3 linked regions of the Homo sapiens genome follow. The protein of the gene in region 3 purifies or fractionates together with the protein of the main gene of each other region. This does not show direct contact. Each region holds a gene or a part of one and is shown on either strand. Other genes may lie near its edges.

Region 1 (7,025 bases), on a different chromosome or scaffold from region 3:
CATGCCATTCTCCTGCCTCAGCCTCCCAAGTAGCTGGAACTACTGGCACCCGCCACCACGCCCGGCTAATTTTATTTTTGTATTTTTAGTAGAGACAGGGTTTCACCATGTTAGTCAGGATGGTCTCAATCTCCTGACCTCGTGATCTACCTGCCTTGGCCTCTCAAAGTGCTGAGATTACAGGCATGAGCCACCGCGCCTGACCTGGAACACTTCTTTTTTTGAGGCAGGATCTTGCTGTTGCCCAGGCTGGAGTACAGTGGCATCATCTCAGCTCACTGCAACCTCTGCCTCCCGCATTCAAGCGATTCTCCTGCCTCGGGTGGGTATGTATGCCCTCTGTGTTAAACATAGAGGGGATACAAGGGAGATAAAAATATAACGGTAAAAAATCATTGACAGTAAGAAATGAGTGGTAACAGTAGCCTAAAACTCTTCTGTGTTGAACGGTTTCGCAGAAAGTATTCACTTGTATTTAGTGAAAAGGGTTTATTTGTAAAGAAAGATACAGAGAAAATAAAACAAAATAGAGAATTATCAAGTCAGACTTTAGAGCAAGAATAAACTGGCCCAGCGTGGTGGCTCATGCCTGTAATCCAGTACTTTGGGAGGCCAAGATGGGTGGATCACCTGAGGTCAGGAGTTTGAGACCAGCCTGGCCAACATGGTGAAACCCCGTCTCTACTAAAAATATAAAAATTAGCCGGGCAACATGGTGTGCACCTGTAATCCCAGCTACTCAGGAGGCTGATGCAGGAGAACCCGGGAGGCAGAGGTTGCAGTGAGCCAAGATCGCACCACTGCACTCCAGCCTGGGTGACAGCGAGACTCCATTTCAAAAAAAGAGAAAAAAAAGAATAAACTAGCAGTAAGGCCGGGCACGGTGGCTCATCCCTGTAATCCCAGCAGCCCTTTGGGAGACTGAGGTGGGCAGATCACGAGGTCAGGAGATCGAGACCATCCTGGCTAACACGGTGAAACATCATCTATACTAAAAATACAAAAAATTAGCTGGACATGGTGGCGCATGCCTGTAATCCCAGCTATTCAGGGGGCCAAGGCAGGAGAATTGCTTGAACCACGGAGTCGGAGATTGCAGCGAGCCTAGATTGTGCCACAGCACTCCGGCCTGGTGACAGAGCAAGACTCTGTCTCAAAAAAATAAAAATAAAAACAAAAATAAAAAACTAGCAGTGTAACTATAATACATAGATCCACCAAAAATCTGATTGCTAGAATCACCTTTACACTAGCACGACATCTTTCATAATGAAAAAAAGTTTGAAATTTTAAAATCAGAGACCCTAGTATGTAATTTTGATCACTAGATGTTCCATATGTGCCTTGTAATACTTGTTAGCTATTAATTTGAAATAAAAAATGGACACTGTGATTGAGAGTGAGCTGCTACTTGAAAGAATCACTAAACATGTGGATCAGCTTAGCTTCCAGAGGCTGTGCCACACTTGGGGAGCATTGAGGATGGGAGGAAGGGGTGGTCCAGGGATTCAGCATCACCTCTGAGCCTACTGACCTGGCTCTGAGCTGGGCTCAGCCACGTGACATGGGCAGGTCACCACTTCTCAGGGTCTTTGTTTCTTCCTCTGTAAACTATAGCAATACCATTTAGATAATTCTGAGGTCCCCCTAAGATTGACAGTACTGCTTTATAAGAGTAAAGGGGTACTCATAGATGGGCATATACCAGAAAGTATGTCTGACTTAACTTGGCTCCCCAGGCATTCTTTGGGCTAGCTATACTGTGGAACCCTTTCCCTCGCTCTTACTGCAAATTAGCCCTTATGCAATTTGAAAATGGTAATATTTAATATTCACACACTTTATTTGTGAAGATAAATGAGGTTTATAAAATGGTTTTGAGCTTTTTGGATGAAAGGAACTCTAAACAGGAAATTATATTAATATAACCTTTAACATGATCTTTTGGGTGAATAAATCATAGTGTTATTGACCACTGTTCCTATACATCCTATAGTAATTATTCCTTGTATGTGAGTGACTATTTATATCCGTTGGGAAATTTTATTCACTATGGAGTCAGAGCCATTAATATGAAACAAAATCGTTAGTAATGCCACATGTGCCTTTGCACAATGGTTAGGCCTTATGGGGGGAAATATGCAAAACAAAGTGGTAGCATACTTTGAAAAGCAAACATAACATTCTAATTGAGGAGTTTACTTAATGAAAACAGACTTTCAGCCAGAGAAGTGTATGAGAGGGAGAAAAATGAGGAAATTACAATTTGAACAGTAGTGGTAATGTCACTCTTCCTCAAGAAATAGACAAATAATATTTAAAAATATGTAGAAATTACCAGTTAGCATATCTACCAGCTTGAGCCCATCTGAGAGAGAAAGAACTGGGTTCTGTTTGCAGATAACTAAAAGCTAGAGAATATTTCCTTAAATCAGTTTGATCTTCCAGTAAACATACTCACTGAAATGATTAAGATCAGATCATCTACACAGAAAAGTATGACATTGTACTTAATTCTTTAATGAAATAACAACATAGGTAATTATACATAGTTATTTGGAAATCTTAATTTTATGTACCACTCAAAAAATTCATTAGGACGCTTGTGAATAAAAAGGCACAATATTAAATTATTATATGCACCCTGAAACTATGTACATCTATTATGCATCAATTTTAAAAATTATTTTTAGTTAATTAAAAGGTGCTTCAGTTAATTAAAAGGTGCTTTTGGCAGTGTATAGTAGTACTTGGGTGATTTGAATCTATCGGATATGCCATGAGCTGTTTTGAATTGACAAGTTTTCTAACTAGCTGAAAATTAGCAGTTTTAAGTGGAAGAAAAAATTTTAGTTGAAAATTAAAATACATGTCCCTGATTTCTTTTTTTGTTTGTTTGTTTTTGAGACGGAGTCTCGCCCTGTCGCCCAGACTGGAGTGCAGTGGCGCGATCTCGGCTCACTGCAACCTCCGCCTCCTGGGTTTAAGCGATTCTCCTGCCTCAGCCTCCCGAGTAGCTGGGACTACAGGCATGTGCCACCACGCCTGGCTAATTTTTTGTGTCTTTAGTAGAGATGAGGTTTCACCATGTTGGCCAGCTGGTCTGGAGCTCCTGACCTCAGGTGATCTGCCTGCCTTAGCCTCCCAAAGTGCTGGGACTACAGGCGTGAGCCACCACGCCTGGCTGCTCCACCATCACTTTATCCTGCCTGTATTCCCCAGTTCTCCTCCACCAGTGTTTCCAGATCCAGAGCTGTTTAGACATAGGGTATTCAGAAAGTTGTGGTTTTGTTATTTTAAGATTTTAAAGTTCACTTCAATGTAAGGAAGTTAGTAAATGTCTGTGCTATGAGGAAAAGTTGATTCTGAATGGGTTGGTTTAACTCCTACAGTCTTAGATAAGAACTTGTTAATCGTATAAACATACTGTTTCAAAGAAAAAGCCAATTATAATTACTTTTATACATACATAAATCTATGAGTAAGATGAAGAAGTCAAATCAAAGGATTTTATTTCATTTCTGAGAATAATTTTGTATCTCACTTGCTGTTTCTCAATAATATTGTATAATTTTATTTCTGATTTTTAAAAATAAGCAAACTGCCCTTGACCTCAAAGAGAAAAAAAAAATTTTTAATTTGATATTTGTGTGACCCTTTAGCTCAAAAAGGGATAAAAGACTTATAAAGAAAAGCCGGGCATGGTGGCTCATGCCTGTAATCCCAGTACTTTGGGAGGCCGAGGCAGGAGGATCATGAGGTCAGGAGAGCGAGACCATCCTGGCTAACACGGTGAAACCCCATCTCTACTAAAAATACAAAAAAATTAGCCAGGTGTGGTGGCGGGTGCCTGTAGTCCCAGCTACTCGGGAGGCTGAGGCAGGAGAATGGCGTGAACCTGGGAGGTGGAGCTTACAGTGAGCCAAGATCGCGCCACTGCACTCCAGCCTGGGGACAGAGCGAGACTCCGTCTCAAAAAAAAAAAAATTTATAAAAGAAGATGTGAACCAAAGGATATACTTGGCTTGAATAGTATTAAGTATTTAAGTAAGTCTTTCTAAACATTTTATATCATTTAATGGAATTGTAAATCCCCTGAACAAAAAATATTTGGTGGAGAGGACTTTTATGAAAGTCAAAGCAACATTTCTTTTTACCTATTTCCTAAAGGTTGCTGTTGAAGAAATCTGGTTGCAGAACACCACGGATTGAATTGGAAGAGATGGGACCCTCATTGGATCTGGTTCTGAGGAGGACACACCTGGCATCGGATGACCTTTATAAATTATCTATGAAAATGCCAAAAGCTCTCAAGGTATATAACTTAGAGCTTGGTACCACATTTATTTGTATTTTCTACTTTAATCCTTTTTCTTTCCAAAAAGAATTTGTGGCATATTATATTAAAAGACAAGGACAGGCCAGGCGCGGTGGCTCACGCCTGTAATCCCAGCACTTTGGGAGGCCGAAGTGGGTGGATCACAAGGTCAGGAGATCGAGACCATCCTGGCTAATACAGTGAAACCCCGTCTCTATGAAAAATACAAAAAATTAGCTGGGCGTGGTAGCGGGCGCCTGTAGTCCCAGCTACTTGGGAGGCTGAGGCAGGAGAATGGCGTGAACCGGGGAGGTGGAGCTTGCAGTGAGCAGAGATCACGCCATTGCACTCCAGCGTGGGTGACAGAGTGAGCCAAAAAAAAAAAAAAAAGACAAGGACATATATAAAGAGATCAATACAATAGATTAAACTAGGACTCACAGAGCCAGGAAAAGGAGAGAGAACCAAATAAGCCAACAATAAGGGATAATAAAAAAAGAGTTGCAAAACCCAGACATGAGGTTTGGCTAAGTGCCTTCTGATAGTCAAGACTGTTGTTTTCAGCAAAAGAAAGAGAGTTGTTTGGTACACTGTAAAGGCTAAGGATTTAGAGTACAGGGTATATAAACCATATGTGCATAAAATGTGTTTTGACTTTTTAAGTAGTTTTAAAAGACAAGAAGAAATGTAATCTCTAAAATGCCAATAGAAATTGAAACAATAGTCACAACTTCTTAAGCTAAACACAGGCTATTTTCTTGATGTGTGACAGTGGTTAGTGTAGTTTATAGTTTTGTTTTTCAAAGTGTGGCCTGACAGTTTACCTGGGAATTGTGCAGAATATCAGGCCCTACCCTAGACATACTGAATTAGGATCTGTATTTTAGCAAGATCCCAAGTGATTTGTATGCACACTTAAGTTTGAGAAGAAAAGTGTATAGGGCTATATACTGTGTCACTGAAGGGGCAGGCACTAATGGAAATTGCTACTAAGATAGTTGTTACAGACTAGATTTTTACTGGCTCATTATAGTAGAAGGCCATTAAATATATACATATTCTTTTATCGTAGCCAAAGAAGAAGAAAAATATTTCCCATGATACTTTTGGTACAACTTATGGAAGGATTCATATGCAGAAGCAAGACCTAAGCAAACTACAAACCAGGAAAATGAAGGGGTTGAAGAAGCGACCTGCAGAAAGGATAACAGAAGACCACGAGAAAAAGTCAAAAAGAATTAAAAAAAATTGATGGAACTTAGCCAGCCACTACTGTTTCATTGTGTTCTACTTAAGAGAATTATCAAGCGTCAATCCATTCAGAGTTTCTTATAAGATCTTATTATATATTTTTATAACATGATAATTTTACGATATATTATTATGAACAGTAATATACTAGTATTAAGTGTAAAGTAAGCCTTTTATTTGAGACATTACACCCTGGTGTGCCATTTTCTCTTGTGATATCCCCTGCCCTCCACAAATTCTTCTTTCTCATTGGGTGGATGGATGGGTGAGGAGGGATCTCCATAACCATTGGGATTTTTTTGAATTTCTGGCCTTAGCTAAAGAAAGCCACAGAAAGCCGGACCCGCAGGAGCTGTGTAAACAATCTCAGTATGAATTACCTGGAAAGTTAACCTCCTCTCCCAACATGGATCTACATTCTGATTTTTATTTTCTACTTTTATTTTGCCTGAAATCCTACTCGTTGACATTTGAGATTTTAAGCTTTGTGGCTGAAAATATATAGATCTCTGAGAGGGATGTCTGCTATCTGATTATTGATAAATTACACTACTGTTGATTGTTTTAAGAGACTCTACTACTAAGTAGAGCCCACCCCGCTTCTCTGAGACGAAACCTGTGTTTTTTGGTTGGTTTGTTTTTAAGAGATGGGGTCTTGTTCTGTCACCTAGGGTGGAGTGCAGTGGCACAATCACAGCTCACTGCAGCCCTGAACTCCTGGGCTCAAGTAATCCTCCTGCCTGAGCCTCTTACGTAGCTGGGATTACAGGCATGAGCCACTGAGCCCTACTTTTTTTTTTTAAAGCAATGAGGTCTTGCTGTGTTGCCCAGGCTGGACTCAAATTCCTGGGCTCAAGTGATCCTCCCACTTCACCTTCCTGAGCAGCCGGAACTACAGATGTTGGTCCACTGCACCTGGCAGAAAAGAAGTTTTGATAGGGGCAGAAATGAAAAAGGAGAAAACAGGTGAGTTTTAAGGTGCAGGGCACTTTAGGGTACTGGGTAGCCCTAGGTAGCTAAAGGTTGCATGAAGGCCCTGGGCGTTTGCAGATGGTGTAGAAGCCAGCCAAAGCCTAACTACTTGTTTTGAAAGTTTCTTGAAGACAGGCCTTGTGCCTAGGAAAACAGAAGCTTTCTTCTTCCTTCTACTAGTATTGCATACTTGTTTTTCTGGAATAGGGTGTTAAGTTCCTTGATTCAGTCCTTGACAAGGAATCTCCTTTATACAAGTGCCAGTAATGTTGTAAAGGTACAGACATACGCAAATCATAATTTGTTACATGAAGTACCAGTGCTTTCTTTTTTGTTGTTTTTTGAGACAGAGTCTCGCTCTGTCGCTCAGGCTGGAGTGCAGTGGCGCGATTTCAGTTCACTGCAACCTCCACCTCCCAGGTTCAAGCATTCTTCTGCCTCAGCCTCCCGAGTAGCTGGGATTACAGGCACCCACCACCACGCC
Region 2 (7,460 bases), on a different chromosome or scaffold from region 3:
ACCCAGTGCAAAGAGTCAGCACTTCTCTTTAATAAGGATCCGATCCCCAGGATTCCTAAATCCAATGTATCTAGCCACACAATATTACTTGACCTTTTTTCTTGAACACTTTGATTAATTCAACAATTTGATTAACTCAATATTATTTCATACAAAGGTTGTTAGGGATACTTGGGTGCTGAGGATAATGAACAAGATACTGTCCCTTCCTTCACGGAATTCAGGGTCCAGTGACAGAAGTAAACAGGTGGGCACAACACAGTCTGCCAAGTATTGTACTATGAGGGGCACGCCCAGTCTCCCCTCTGGGCCTACAAGTGAGACAAGTAAATGGGTGGTCACAACAGTCTGCCAAGTACTATAAGGGGCACACACTGTCTCCCCTCTGGGCCTACAAGTGAGACAAGTAAACGGGTGGTCACAACAGTCTGCCAAGTACTATGAGGGGCACACACGGTCTCCCCTCTGGGCCCACACAAGATCTTCTCTACGTTCTTCTGCACCTAATGCCGTTCGCACATCCTGAAGGGGGACCAAGTCAAAGGTTACCTACTTCATAAGGTTCCCCCTGACTCTCCAACTTACCACAGCTAACCACACTCTTCTCCTCTCCCAATCCATGTGTGTCCTCCATGATAACAATGTTTTATTTCTAGTATGGTCATACGAGATATGACTTACCCCACTTTTTTTTTTTTTTTTTTTTGAGATGGAGTCTTGCTCTGTTGCCCAGGCTGGAGTGCAGTGGCGCGATCTCGGTTCACTGCAAGCTCTGCCTCCTGGGTTCAGTTCACACCATTCTCCTGCCTCAGCCTCCCCAGCAGCTGGGACTACAGGCGCCCGCCACCACGCCTGGCTAATTTTTCTGTATTTTTAGTAGAGACGGGGTTTCACCGTGTTAGCCAGGATGGTCTCGATCTCCTGACCTCGTGATTTGCCCGCCTCAGCCTCCCAAAGTGCTGGGATTACAGGCGAGAGCCACCGCACCCGGCCTCGACTTACCTCTCTTGAAAATGACTTCCAAAGAGGCAGGTATTTTATCTAATGCATTTTTGTAACACAGTACCCGATGCACAGGACAGGCACTCACTCAACATCTTCTAGAATGAACTGAATACCACACTTTCCCGATGTGATTTTTTTTTTTTACTTCCAATCACCAAACAATTACCATCACCCAGTTTTTAGATAAGTCATCTGTTCTCTAAAAATATAAATCTCACTCCACAGAACAGAAGACGGATGGTGTATAATATATTCTAAAGTTCTCCACATAAGTCAATAACATGAACAAAGTTCATATAATCCAAAGAGCAAATTCCTTCAACAAACCTGAGAGATGGTTGACCAAAAATACAAATAAGACATGACTCCTGCACTCGAAAATACTACAATCTGGCTGGGCACAGTAGCTCATGCCTGTAATCCTAACACTTTGGGAGGCTGAGGCAAGTGAATCACTTGAGATTAGGAGTTCAAGACCAGTCTGGCCAACATGGTGAAACTCCACTTCTACTGAAAATACAAAAATTAGCCAGGCCTGGTGGCGCATGCCTGTAGTCCCAGCTACTCGGGAGGCTGAGGCAGGAAAATCACTTGAACCTGGGAGGCGGTGGCTGCAGTCAGGATCACACCACTGCGCTCCAACCTGGCCAACAGAGCGAGACTCCATCTCAAAAAGAAAGAAAGAAAATACTACAATCGATCAAGAGATGTGCCAGAACAACTGTCAGGAAGAAATAAGAAATGGTGGAGAGAAGTGGGGAAACAACTTTTGCTATGAAGGTAAAATACGAGACTCCCACAAAGCTTTCCAAGGCAAGCTCATCCCGTCCTTGAGACCTGAAGAAAAGGAGGCACTGACGAGGGGAAAACAGTCACTCTGCAGGGACTTCAGTAACTCCCTCTCGTGCAGGAGTCCCTGGGAGGCTCCAGTTGCCCGTCAATGTCTGTGTAATTGCGACCCAAATCGAATGTTCACTACATAAAAACGTGACTTCTTAAAAGTCCTAATACTAGGGCCGGGCGCAGTGGCTCACGCCTGTAATTCCAGCACTTTGGGAGGCCGGGGCGGGAGGATCACCCGGGATCAGGAGTTCGAGGCCAGCTTGGCCAACGTGGTGAAACCCCGTCTCTACTAAAAATACGAAAATTAGCTGGGTGTGGTGGTGCACGACTGTAATCCCTGTTACTCGGGAGGCTGAAGCAGGAGAATCGCTTGAACGCGGGAGGTGGAGGTTGCAGTGAGCCGAGACTGCGCTCCAGCCTGGGAAACAAGAGCGAAAAACTATGTCTCAAAAAAAAAAAAAAAAAAAAAAAGTCCTAATACTCAACACTTGTTGACTCATTCTTGCCACACCAACCAACGCTGTAAAAATTTAGTCTGGGCCTACTATGGTCTGAAAAGGAACAGGTATTCCCAAATCTAACAGTGAAAGAGAATGACTTAAAAATTATGAAACGTTAAATCACGAGAACAACGAACCCAGGATTCCTGAGAGGGGAGGGGGCTACGCCAAACCCAGAATCCGAAGGCTCATCACGGACCACGGAACGCTTCCTCCCTCACATGTCGGGGTCCCCCTCCACTCGCCCACATCGTCACCCGGGGCCCCTCCAGGGAACCCAACTCTGGGTGTACCCCCATCTCTGGGGGCCCTCAGTCTTTGGGTGGACCACGGTCTTAGGTGGACCCCGGTCTCTGGGGGATCCGATCTCTGGTGGACCCCGGATTCTGCTGGGGGAGGGGAAATGATCCCGAGTACGCGGCCAGACGGTCAGGCCCAGGAGCGGGGGATGGGCGAGCGGAAGGCGACCGCTCTCCCACGGCTACAGGCCCGGACCCTCCCCGGGGACCCAGCTGAGGAGAACGCGAAAGTTGCAGTGGCCCTCCCGGGGCCGCCTACCTTGGCGGACGGCACCACCGTAATTTTCTTGAAGTTGTAATGTGCCATGCCGGCAGCCGTATGCACGCGGGTACTTGGCACTCCCGGAACTTCCGCCGTCGGGCGCAGGTGGGACTTCCACTGTCGGGCGGTTGAGGTACGTCACTTCCGGGAGCTCAGCCAATCGTGTTCTGCGTGCTCTACGGCGCTTTCCGCGTCGCACAGCGCACCCGCCCGGCTTGGAGGTCAGCCACGGAGGGCGTGTGAGGGCCTCAGGAGCGAGGGTACAGAGGAGAGGACGCCCGGGTTTTAGGGGGAGCGCGGAGACTAAATTCCTGCTGAGTAAAGCGGGGGTTTCCGACAGACTGCCCTGCGGGTTTCTGGAGCGGGTTCAGGCCCCCAGCCACGCGCCCTGGGCCAGGGTTGGAGGGTCCGGGGTCTTGGGATTTGGGAGTTGCGGGGCTTAGGAGTCCAGAGGGTCTAGGGGATCCGGGAGTCTGGGGGTCCTGGGTCGCGGCGAGCCCCGCAAAGGAGGAGGAAGCCGCGCGTGCGGGGCGTGCCCAGCCTCTGGGTGTGGAGCAGATGACGCCCCTACCCCGGCCTCGCGCGTGGGACTTGATCCCGGGCCGTGGTGAGGAGGCCCTCGCGGCTTCCCTGCAGCCCTGCTTTCTCGTGCTTGTTAAATCCCAAAACGGGCGGAGAAGGGAAAGCCTGATCTAAGGCAAAAGAGGTGCAGCTGGTTCCGCGCAGTGCCTTAGGAGAGCCCAGGGAACAGTTGCGAGAGACAGTCCTGTGGGGTCCAACTGAGGAGAAGGTTGATGAGGATGGAGCCTTTACTGCTTTTATGTTTGTGAATAGAGTGGCCGCTCCCTTTGGGAACCCAGGGCCACATCCCTTAAATTAAACGTTAGGTAGGGCTGACTCAGTCAAGCAGTGTTCAGAGCTGCTGACTATATATTAACTCGTTTAATTTCTGCAACAGCCTCATGAAGTGCATGGGGAAACAAAGGCACACAAGGCTCGAAAGCACCCCGTGGTTGTGCAGCTGACAAGCTAACAGGCAGCAGAGGTGGGCTTTGAACCCAGGCAGCCTGGCTCCAGCAAACCTGCTTCTAACCATTAGCTATACTGCTTCTCACGCATCTGGGATGCCCCCCACTCTCCAATCCTTTTAAACAAGTCCTATTATTCTTACGCGAAAATACCTCTCATAAATTCCCAGCATTCCAATATTGAAAATCATTCTGGGTCATGCTTTTCTCATCTATTAACTATGCTTCCATTTTTGTGTCACAAGGCGGATAAGCATACCTCCTACATCTTTGTGGCACTTCTAAAGGAAGCTTCTAGGGTAATTAGGATTTGCTGGCTATGATCATTTGCTAAACCACAGGACAGTTCTGGCCACCATTTCCGAGATTAGCAAAGCTATGCTCATACTTATTGCCCTTTCTTTTAGGTTCTTGTATGTTTCCTCAACCTCTCCCACTTTCTCTCACTCTGATATAGCCAGTTCCTCTTTTTCTTGTAATCCGGTATTTAGATAAGTCCAGTCAATACTTTGCTTCAGATGGGCAAACATCCTTTCTTTAATTTTTTTTTTTTTTTTGAGACGGAATCTCACTCTGTCGCGCAGGCTGGAGCGCAGTGGCGCCATCTCAGCTCACTGCAACCTCCGCCTCCAGGGTTCAAGCCATTCTCCTGCCTCAGCCTCCCAAGTAGCTGGGATTACAGGCACCTGCCACCACTCCCGGCTAATATTTTGTATTTTTAGTAGAGACAGGGTTTTACCATATTAGCCAGGCTGGTCTCAAACCCTGACCTCAAGTGATCCACCCACCTTGGCCTCCCAAAGTGCAGAGATTACAGGCATGAGCCACCTGCTTTTAACTTGTTCAGCTACAAAGGCATGTCTGTGAATGCACAACCATAATGACTCATCATGGGCCCAGAGCTATAACAATGATAAGGTACCAAGCATCTTACACCATGTGCGTGTTGATGAGAATCAACATCCTTGCCTGTTCTTGTGATTTTGTGGCAGAGTATAGCTTCTTGGGGGCAAGTATGTATTCTACACCACTAGGAGCAAGCTTCTTTATCATACACTTCTGGGCTTCTCTGGGGAAGCCAAACTCTAAAGGCCTTTTCTGAGGAGTGTCGCAAATGCTGCCTGCAGTACGAGGCACATTGCCAGTTCCTGACTGCATTAGCAGGTTCCAGCTGCCAGGACGCCTCTGAGTGTGTACCTTGTGACAGAAAGGTACTTCTCAGCTGTAGTAAAGGATGCTCTCAAGGGTACTCTGCAAAGCTTCTGACTGCGAGGCACTTCTCAGTAAAAAGCTTTGTTTTTCAGACCTTTTTATTTTGTGGGTTTGGTCTTTTCTGTTTTACCTTCTCGTTGCTGTAATTCTGATGGATGAAAGGTACATTTTGCAGAACTGAACTTCCTGCCTGAAAGGAGCCTTTACATGGGGATTAGCCATCAGTAGGCATCCGGTCTTAGAGGGTCCTATGAGTGCTCCATTGGGCCCGTCGGCCACTTCCCTGGATCCCCACAGGAACTCATTCAGAACGAGTCACATGCTGCTTTGTACCTAGATGCTTCCTTGTGTACATCTTGTTTCCAAAAGAAGTAGCCAGCTCTTCGTGGACAGGAACTGTGTCTTACTTTTTTGCCATCCCTCACCTCAGGCAGCACTGCCAAGAGCATTCACAGTGACTGTGGAACTCCGTTGATTGAATGTTGGCTTGAGTAAGTTCCTGATGTAGGGGCTGTAGCGGTTGGAATCAAGCTTCTGCAATACTCAAGTAGTCCTACTGAATTACAGTACTGTCAGACCCCCTCTGCACAACCCTGAAGTGGGTCAGAACTCCACACTGTGCCATAAAGAGGAAAGCTGTCAACAGGGAGGTCTAAGGAAACACCTCCTTAGGTGGAAGGCAGCAATGGCATGAGAGCCACCCTCCGGGCCAAAGGTGCAGCCTGACATTCTCTGCAGAATTACACAGTGAGTTAAGACTGTGAGCTTCATTTCTGAGATACAGCTCCACCCGCTGTGATCCTGGGAAAATGTCTCAGCTTCCCCAAGCCTCTGTTTCTTCACTCTTTGCTCACTTACTATCTACCAGGCATGTTAAAAATACTTTATGTGAATTATTTTAGCTTTTCACTAACCCTATTCTACAGGCATTAATAAGTGAGCAAAGAGATTGTGTATTATTAATTATGCATTATGTATTATCTATGTTCTTATTAGCTGCTTAGTTACAATAATATTTGCTAAACTTTTGTTCTATTCATTAAATTATCGTTGAACCTTAACAACTGCAATGCAGGGAGCCTCCACCATGTGCCAGGTCACTTGCTTTCTTCTCGGGACAGCATAGTGAGGTGGGTGTGATTGTCTCTGTTTCACAGACAAGAGTGCTGGCTTTGAGGTGGTTGAGTGCTTGCTCACCGTCACACAGCTGGAGAGACACAATGAGGTGCGTTCAGGGCGCATGGAACTCCAAAGCCACTCTCCTTTTGCACTGCCAGCCGAGAGTGGCTTTGTTCTTGACCTCTGTAGAGTTATTACCTTGTTTGGTATTTGTTTGTTTGTTTATTTATTTATGAGACAGGGTCTCACTCTGTCGCCTAGGCTGGAGTGCAATGGTGTGATCTTGGCTCACTGCAACCTCCACCTCCCAGGTTTAAGCAATTCTCAGATTTAAGTGCCTCAGCCTCCCGAGTAGCTGGGACTACAGGTACATGCCACCACACCTGGCTACTTTTTGTATTTTTTAGTAGAGGGGAGATTTCGCCATGTTGTCCAGGCTGGTCATGAATTGTTTGGTATTTAAATGGAGGTACATGATGGATTGCACTTGGGGTCATATGCTGTCAATAATCCCCCAGCACCTGTGTTTCACTAAAGCACTGTTTGCATATGCAGACAGGTTGTGTTTCTTCTGTGAGAATTCCGTTCCTGTGCGTGGATCATGACAGGCACCTGTGCTAATGAACTTCTGCCCTTGCTCACGTCAGAGCTGCTGATAAGGGGTGTTTCTATGGGTTGAGTACGAGTCATTCTATTGACACACTGTTAAAAACATTCTTTGCATTCTGCTGTTCCATAAAGGAACAATTTTAGGTTTAATGGAAATCTTGCGATCTCTTTTCCTAGAGAAGATTTGTGATAATAATCATACACGTATTTGGAATGCATGTACTTATGCTTGTATGATCAATTTCCAAATGATTCTAAATATCTGCAGGCAGAATTTCTTAAGATTAGCATTCTGTGCTGTACCCAAAAAGATACTCGAGATAAGCAAAGACAAGTTTCATGTTGCAACAGACATCTGAATCCTTAGTGTTTCTGGAAGCTGGTTAAGCAGGTGGTTGTGATGTCTGACCCTCAGGTTAAAAACAGTGAAAAAAATTCACTTTGATGATGTGACGTCATTGTCACAAGTTTAATAATTGATTTTGAAGGTCTGCACAAGGAAACCATAATGCTTTAGCAATTTCCGTTTTCCAGAGGGAGGAGGCTTAAAATTTCAATTCCAGCCCTGCCACCAACTTCTAGA
Region 3 (7,008 bases):
GTTGTATCAACCATTGTATAATTATGTTGTACTTTGATATTAACAGAAACTTTATTTCATAAGAGTCTCAATCCATGGATACTTAATATTACAAAGCACATTATTTGTTAGTAGTTTAAAGATGTGCATTAAGTGATGACATTCTTAGATATAAAACCCTACCCCTCCTTCAAAAACAACTGGCATTTTAGTACTCCATGAGACCAGTATTTAGCTACAGCTGTTCTTTTACTTTTAAATTAAGGTAATTTCCTCTTATATTTCTTAATAAATTAAGGTAATTACTTTCAAATTAGTTTAGCTTGAAGATTTCCAAAGGTTATGACTCAACTAAATTTGGAATCAACAGCTGATGAGATATACTGGGCATTTTAGGCAGTAAAGGAGCTGAGGTTGTTAAAGGACACTTAATTTTATAAGAAATGCTTACATTAATATACACACTGGGTATTGTCTGATGACTCATTGCAAATATCCTCAAGTTGGTCAACATCTTGATCCTCCAAACTGTTACTGTCTGAAAAAATAAATATACAAAATCAAAAAACTAAACTTATGTATTACATGTCAGCAAGGCATATGTAAGTTAGACATATGTAATATGTATGGTAAAATGTATTACTTTTAAAAAGTTGGAACAATATTTTTAGCTACCAAAAATTCAATGCATCATTCAGAAAATGGAAAATTCTGATTAAATATGAGAAATATGGTTTTTAGGTTTAAAATGTCCCTTATTTGTCAATGTAATGTTTAAAGAAAGATATGGCGATACAGTAGAAATCAACTTATTGAAATTACAAAACATTGTATCAACCAAAATGCATTGTTATGTAAATGTATAGAATTAAGCATAAAAAGCTAAGCATCCACATATTAACTTGGTAATTTCTAATTGGCAGTAAAATTTATTGATTCATTTGTATACTCTGATTTTCCTACCATACCATGTAAAAACTAAATCATGTAAAAAATATATAAAAGCAAGTCCTCTTCCTCTCTGATTATAGAAACTAAGCATCTTTAGTTTAAAAACATTTGCTAAATATTCACTATGTTTCAAGTACAATATCAAAGCTATTAGAAATATAAGGACGCAGCTGAGACTGGGGATGCTGGGGAGACAGACAGACCATGTTAAACCAAGCTTGTCCAACCCGTGGCCTGCAGGCCACATGCGGCCCACGATATCTTTATATGCAGCCCAACATAAATTCGTAAACTTTCTTAAAATATTATGAGGTTTTTTTTATTTTTTTTTAGCTCATCAGCTATTGTTAGTTATCATTAGTGATTTTATGTGTGGCCAAAGACAATTCTTCCAGTGTGGCCCAGGGAAACCAAAAGATTAGACACCCCTGTGTTAAACCATTGTGATCCATGTTATTAAGATATGTGAAACCTCATTACTACTCCTAAGTCTGTTCTTTCTGGATCTTAGCTAAGAAACATTCACTACTCTTATTTAGAAAGTCATCTAATACTTACATTTGATTTCCTAAATATATTTGAATCTGTTCCCTTTGTTGTTTTTTTTTTTTTTTTTTTTTTTTTGAGACAGGGTCTTGCCCTGTCACCAAGCCTGGAGTGCAGTGGCTTGATCTCAGCTCCCTGCAACCTCTGCCTCCTGGGTTCAAGCGATTCTCCTGCCTCAGCCTCCCGAGTAGCTGGAACTACAGGCATGTGCCACCACACTTGGCTACTTTTTGTATTTTTAGTAGAGACGGGGTTTCGCCATGTTAGCCAGACTGGTCGTGAACTCCTGACCTCAAGTGATCTACCCACCTCGGCCTCCCAAAGTGCTGGGATTACAGGCGTGAGCCACCATGCCTGGCCTTGAATCCATTCCCTTTTCATTGGTAACGCCAAAGTTCAGGGCCTCATAGTCTCTCCACAGTTGTGACTGTAATAGACATTTTCCTCTTCTTTAACTCAGTGGTTGTCAATAAAAAGATAATTTGCACAACCCAGCCCTCCCCCGCCCAAGCCTATTCGTTCCCATTTATTCAACAAGAATTTACTGTGTGTCTGCCTACCCACTGCTTTCTAGATATCAGCGTTAATGCAGTGAACAAAAGACAACAATCTCTGCCCTCATACTGCCTCTACCGTAGTCAGGGGATACAGACAACAAACAAAAGTAACGAATACAATACATAGTCTCTCCCATGATGATAGGGTGCTGTAGAGAAGAATGAAGCAGGAAGGAGGAATTGGGACAGTTAGAACTGTAAGTAAAGAGATCAAGGAAGGCCTCATTCAAACAGTGACATTTAAGCAAAGACCTGAAGTAGATGAGGGAGGAAATTCGGGGGATTGAGGGACGGCGGGGAGGGGCGCATTAAAGGCAAAGAGATTATATAACGTACTGTACCTAAAATATACAAATGCTAGTTACTATTTCTGGTTTTAAAGAGAATGATGAGATCACCTTAGAAAATGGAGCCTTAAAAAACTGCTTCAAAGGCGGGGCTCGGTGGCTCACGCCTGTAATTCCAGCACTTTGGGAGGCCGAGGCAGGTGGATCACCTGAAGTCAGGAGTTCGAAACCAGCCCGACCAACATGGTGAAACCCCATCTCTACTAAAAATACAAAAATATTAGCTGGGTGTGGTGGCGAGCGCCTATAATTCCAGCTACTTGGGAGGCTGAACCTGGAGAATCGCTTGAACCCGGGAGGCAGAGGTTGCAGTGAGACGAGATGGCGCATTTGCACTCCAGCCTGTGCGACAAGATTGAAACTCCGTCTCAAAACAAAACAAAAACTGCCTCAAAGCCGGGCGCTGTGGCTCAAGCCTGTAATCCCAACACTTTGGGAGGCCGAGGCGGGTGGATCGCTCGTACCCGGGAGTTCGAGACCAGCCTGGGCAACACGGTGAAACCTCATCTCTACAAAAACTACAAAAATCAGCCAGGCTTCGTGGCGCGAGCCTGTAGCTCGCTACTTTTGAGGCTGAGGTCGGAGGATCGCTTGATCCCGGGAGGTCGAGGCTGCGGTGAGCCGAGCTCGTGCCCCTGCACTCCAGCCTGGGCGACTGGGCGAGATGCCGTCTCAAAATACCCATAAAAACAAAAACAAAAACAAAATACTGCCTCAAATACAAGCACTAAGAATTAATGAAAGTATTCTTTTGGTACAGTTCTTTTTGTTCATCAACTGAATCACGCTGCAAGCTGTGAAGTAATTAAGGGAACTTCTGCAACTGTGCAGTAAAAGGGTAAACCTGATAGTGTATTTAAGTAGACGTACTTTCTGGTAGTTAATTACTTCTTGACACTAGGGGGCCACTAAATACAAGTCCACTCAGCATTTGATTCGGTGCACCAAAATGCCTCAGAAATTTCTGGAATCAGTCCTGTACCTCCAAAAAACCAGAATGTTATCTTCTTCTTTTCTAACAGCTGCAAAGCCCCAGTAGTTCCATTTTTCTGTACACTAAGTTTTCATTCCTCAGTATCCTTCACAATCATGCACACATTACACAGAGTGACCGGAACAAAGATGAGTCGACTTCGCCGAATGATAGAGAAAAACTTCCATACTGAGCGAACACCGAGGGGAGTCCGGAGGCCCTGTTGTCCTCTTCCGTGGCTGGCTGTGTCCGTCGCAGCCTGAAAGGTCAGCGGTACCCAGCGCTGTGACAGGGTCACAGGCGCGCGATGTCTCACAGCTCGGAGCAGTACTCACCTGGCATTAGGCCGCGTGCCGCAGGCCAGCTCTCACCGCTGGGCTCTTGAAGCAGGAGGCGCGAGCCGCGCCAAAGTCTGCAACGGCCTCAAGTCTCGACGCCAGCCTAGGCAAAAGGCAATGTATCTAAACGAAAAGAAAATAGGCTTTCTCCGCTCTACCGCCTCGGGCAGCCACACCTCCACACTTCCGGCGGTGTACCGGCCAAATGCCGCCTGCCAGCAACTTCCGTCCTCCTAGCTAAAAGCGGAAAACAGAGGCTCGGAACCGCTGCGTGGTTCTTGCTCTTCACTCGGCCGTTTTAAAGGGTGACTCTTTCCTGTCCCGGCCTGCGTGGTGTGGGCTTGTGGGTCTTTGAGACCCGAAAATTGAGAGCGTTTTCGCACTCCAGCGGCTGCTCCTGGCGGCTCTGCGGCCGTCACCATGGTAAGGAGGATGCCTCGGACGCTCGCGACACACAGCGTCTGAGTTAGTGGGACCTGAGGACTCTGGGGCGCTGGGGTAGGGGGTGAGCGGTGGTAGGCGGAAATGAGAACTGCCAAGAGAAAAGGATGGTAGACCCGTGGGGTGGGCTCTGAGGAGTGGAAACAACTTCACATTCGAGACACAGACGGTATTTGCCAGAACACAAGCTTTGGAGCAAGATTTTACTCTGTCCTGTTTTCTTTTTTCTTTTTGATCCACCGCTAAGAGTCCTAAAAATTCCTGATTTCACCACAAGCGTGGTTATCAGCCCCAGAGCCTAATGGGAATATGGTTGTCCCTTGTACAGTCTTAGATGTCAGTCCCGCCCCCTTCATTTTACTGCTGAGGAAACTGAAGGCGTCCTTGCCAAAGACCAGACAGCTAATGAATTGCGAAGCCGGGCTTAACGGCCCAGATCTAACTGCCAGGTCCTTTCTCTTTGTGTTACGTCTCTATAATCTGCGTTTCTTTGCAAAATGGCATTCCATACACCCTTCATGTGATTGCTGCAAAGTTTATGTGATAGCAGTTGGTAGCAGCACACCTTGTTGGTTGTTACTTAACATTGCTCTCTGTGCTGGACTTGGCTTTGTATCATTTTTATTTTTGCAGCCTTAAAATACGAATAGACTCACGCCTGGCCGCGTGTTTAAAACGTGTCTAAAATGCAAAAAGCATCCCATACATTGCTGGTGAAAAGAAAAATAATGCACTTTTGGAAAACGGTCTGGCAGTAAACACACGTCCACATGAAGACTTGCATGCAGTTGTTTATTGCAGATTTATTCGTAATCACCCAAAACTGGGAACAACCCTGATACCTATCATCTGGTCAGCGGGTAAACAGTGGTGTATCCATACAATAGCATACTACTCAACAATAAAAAGGATTGAAGTTCCTATACCTGCAGCAAATTGGGTGAATCCCAAAAGCAAGAAACCAGATTCAAAAGGCTATGTACTACTGTTGATCCCTGTTTCATTCTGGGAAAGGCAAAACTGTAGGGATAGGTATCAAACTGAGGGTTGGGAAAGAGGATTGACTTAAAAGTTACATAGGGAATTTTAGGGGGAAATGGAAATTCTTTGTATTTTGATTGTGGTGGTTACAGAACTGTGTAGTTAGGAAAAACTTAGAACTGTATACCTAAAAAGGACAGGTTTTACTGTGTGTAAATTATGCTTCAATAAAACTGACTTAAATTTTTTAAATGTGAAATGAAGGTGTTATTAAAAAAGCAAATTATGTCAAGGAAAAAAGATACTGTAATCAGTTCATCCCTTTTGTGGTCCAGTAGATTTTGGACCATTCCCTAATGAGATTATTAGAGATGTAAGCCCTGATGCCTCATATCATTCAAGACCAAAATTTAACTTACATCATGTGAATAAACTTAATGGTGCAAGAATCATTTAAGTAAGTGAACATTTGGATGAAACAGGGTCTTTGTGCTGTGTAAAAGAAAGCATTTTAGAATAATTGTCAGTACTTTAAAAAATTAAAATAATATTTCTTCCATCATTATAGCCACAGAATGAATATATTGAATTACACCGTAAACGCTATGGATACCGTTTGGATTACCATGAGAAAAAGAGAAAGAAGGAAAGTCGAGAGGCTCATGAACGTTCAAAGAAGGCAAAGAAAATGATTGGTCTGAAGGCTAAGCTTTACCATAAACAGCGTCATGCTGAGAAAATACAAATGAAAAAGACGTAAGTGGTCTCATTTATTTGTCATAACAAGTTAACATCTTTTGAGTAATCATTATTAAAACAGATAATCTTGAATCTTTTTTCCTTCTTGGTAGTATCAAGATGCATGAAAAGAGAAACACCAAACAAAAGAATGATGAAAAGACACCACAGGGAGCAGTACCTGCCTATCTGCTGGACAGAGAGGGACAATCTCGAGCTAAAGTACTTTCCAATATGATTAAACAGAAAAGAAAAGAGAAGGCGGTAAGCAATAACAATTGAAGTCTTTGTTTTGTTTAGGAGAATTACTTAAATTCAAATTTGAGGTTCTTGTTTCTCGGTTTAATTTCAAACATGAAGTACAGCTATTATTCCCATTATTTAGATGTTGAAGTCTTTGTAAATTTAATAAAAAACTTGCTTTCTCATCATAAGGTTTTAAAATTTAAGTTATAAAAAAAATTTATTAGAATGCCATATGAAATTAAAAAGCTGGTAAGGAGTGAATTTCAAATTCAATATTTGTCTTCCTGTTTGAAAACCCACAGTGCTATGCAGTCATAAAGAAAAATACAAATGCTTCTTATTTGTGCTGCCCTGTAGTGCCAAACTTGGTTAAAAAGTAGAATGGTGGAAAACTCCCTGAGTTGTCACAAAAAATGTGGCTTTTTAAAACACCTGTAAATAGATTAGCAGAAATCCAGATAAAAGAATATGCAGTATTTATATTTAAAGAATTATTTTTACTGCCTTACACTATTTCAGTTTTTTCATAGAATTTGCACTCAAGGGAGGCATAAAACATCTGGTGAGGATTTTGTCTTGCTAGTGATCTACAGATCCATCTCGGGAAGAAATACAGAGACATATTAAGAGGTGGAAACACTCTTCCAGTATTATGCTATTAAACATTAGTAAACACATATACTGCTTATAGAAGTCACTATCGGCTGGGCACCGTGACTCACGCCTGTAATCCCAGCACTTTGGGAAGCCAAGGCAGGTGGATCACCTGAGGTCAGGAGTTCAAGACCAGCCTGACCAATGTGGTGAAACCCCACCTCTACTAAAAATACAAAAATTAGCTGGGTGTGGTGGTGTGTGTCTGTAGTCCCAGCTACTCGGGAGGCTAAGACAGGAGAATTGCTTGTACCCAG

The links.
Region 1: the proteins of NSA2 (region 3) and RPF2 purify together in Homo sapiens (affinity purification with mass spectrometry; 4 studies listed by BioGRID and IntAct, with this or other methods). This does not show direct contact.
Region 2: the proteins of NSA2 (region 3) and GTPBP4 purify together in Homo sapiens (affinity purification with mass spectrometry; 5 studies listed by BioGRID and IntAct, with this or other methods). This does not show direct contact.

Annotation. Positions count from the first base shown.
Region 1 is NC_000006.12:111,020,013-111,027,037, forward strand, and holds part of RPF2 (ribosome production factor 2 homolog), read left to right. Parts: intron 1-4,170; coding exon 4,171-4,315; intron 4,316-5,390; coding exon 5,391-5,570; 3' UTR 5,571-7,025. UniProt on the Homo sapiens protein: Involved in ribosomal large subunit assembly. May regulate the localization of the 5S RNP/5S ribonucleoprotein particle to the nucleolus.
Region 2 is NC_000010.11:983,974-991,433, reverse strand, and holds the start of GTPBP4 (GTP-binding protein 4), read right to left. Parts: upstream 3,001-7,460; 5' UTR 2,955-3,000; coding exon 2,907-2,954; exon of another isoform or gene 2,486-2,906; intron 1-2,485. UniProt on the Homo sapiens protein: Involved in the biogenesis of the 60S ribosomal subunit. Acts as a TP53 repressor, preventing TP53 stabilization and cell cycle arrest.
Region 3 is NC_000005.10:74,763,250-74,770,257, forward strand, and holds the start of NSA2 (ribosome biogenesis protein NSA2 homolog), read left to right. Parts: upstream 1-3,999; 5' UTR 4,000-4,111; coding exon 4,112-4,114; intron 4,115-5,681; coding exon 5,682-5,869; intron 5,870-5,964; coding exon 5,965-6,115; intron 6,116-7,008. Other genes in the region: GFM2 (ribosome-releasing factor 2, mitochondrial), read right to left, coding at 431-517, 1,786-1,857. UniProt on the Homo sapiens protein: Involved in the biogenesis of the 60S ribosomal subunit. May play a part in the quality control of pre-60S particles.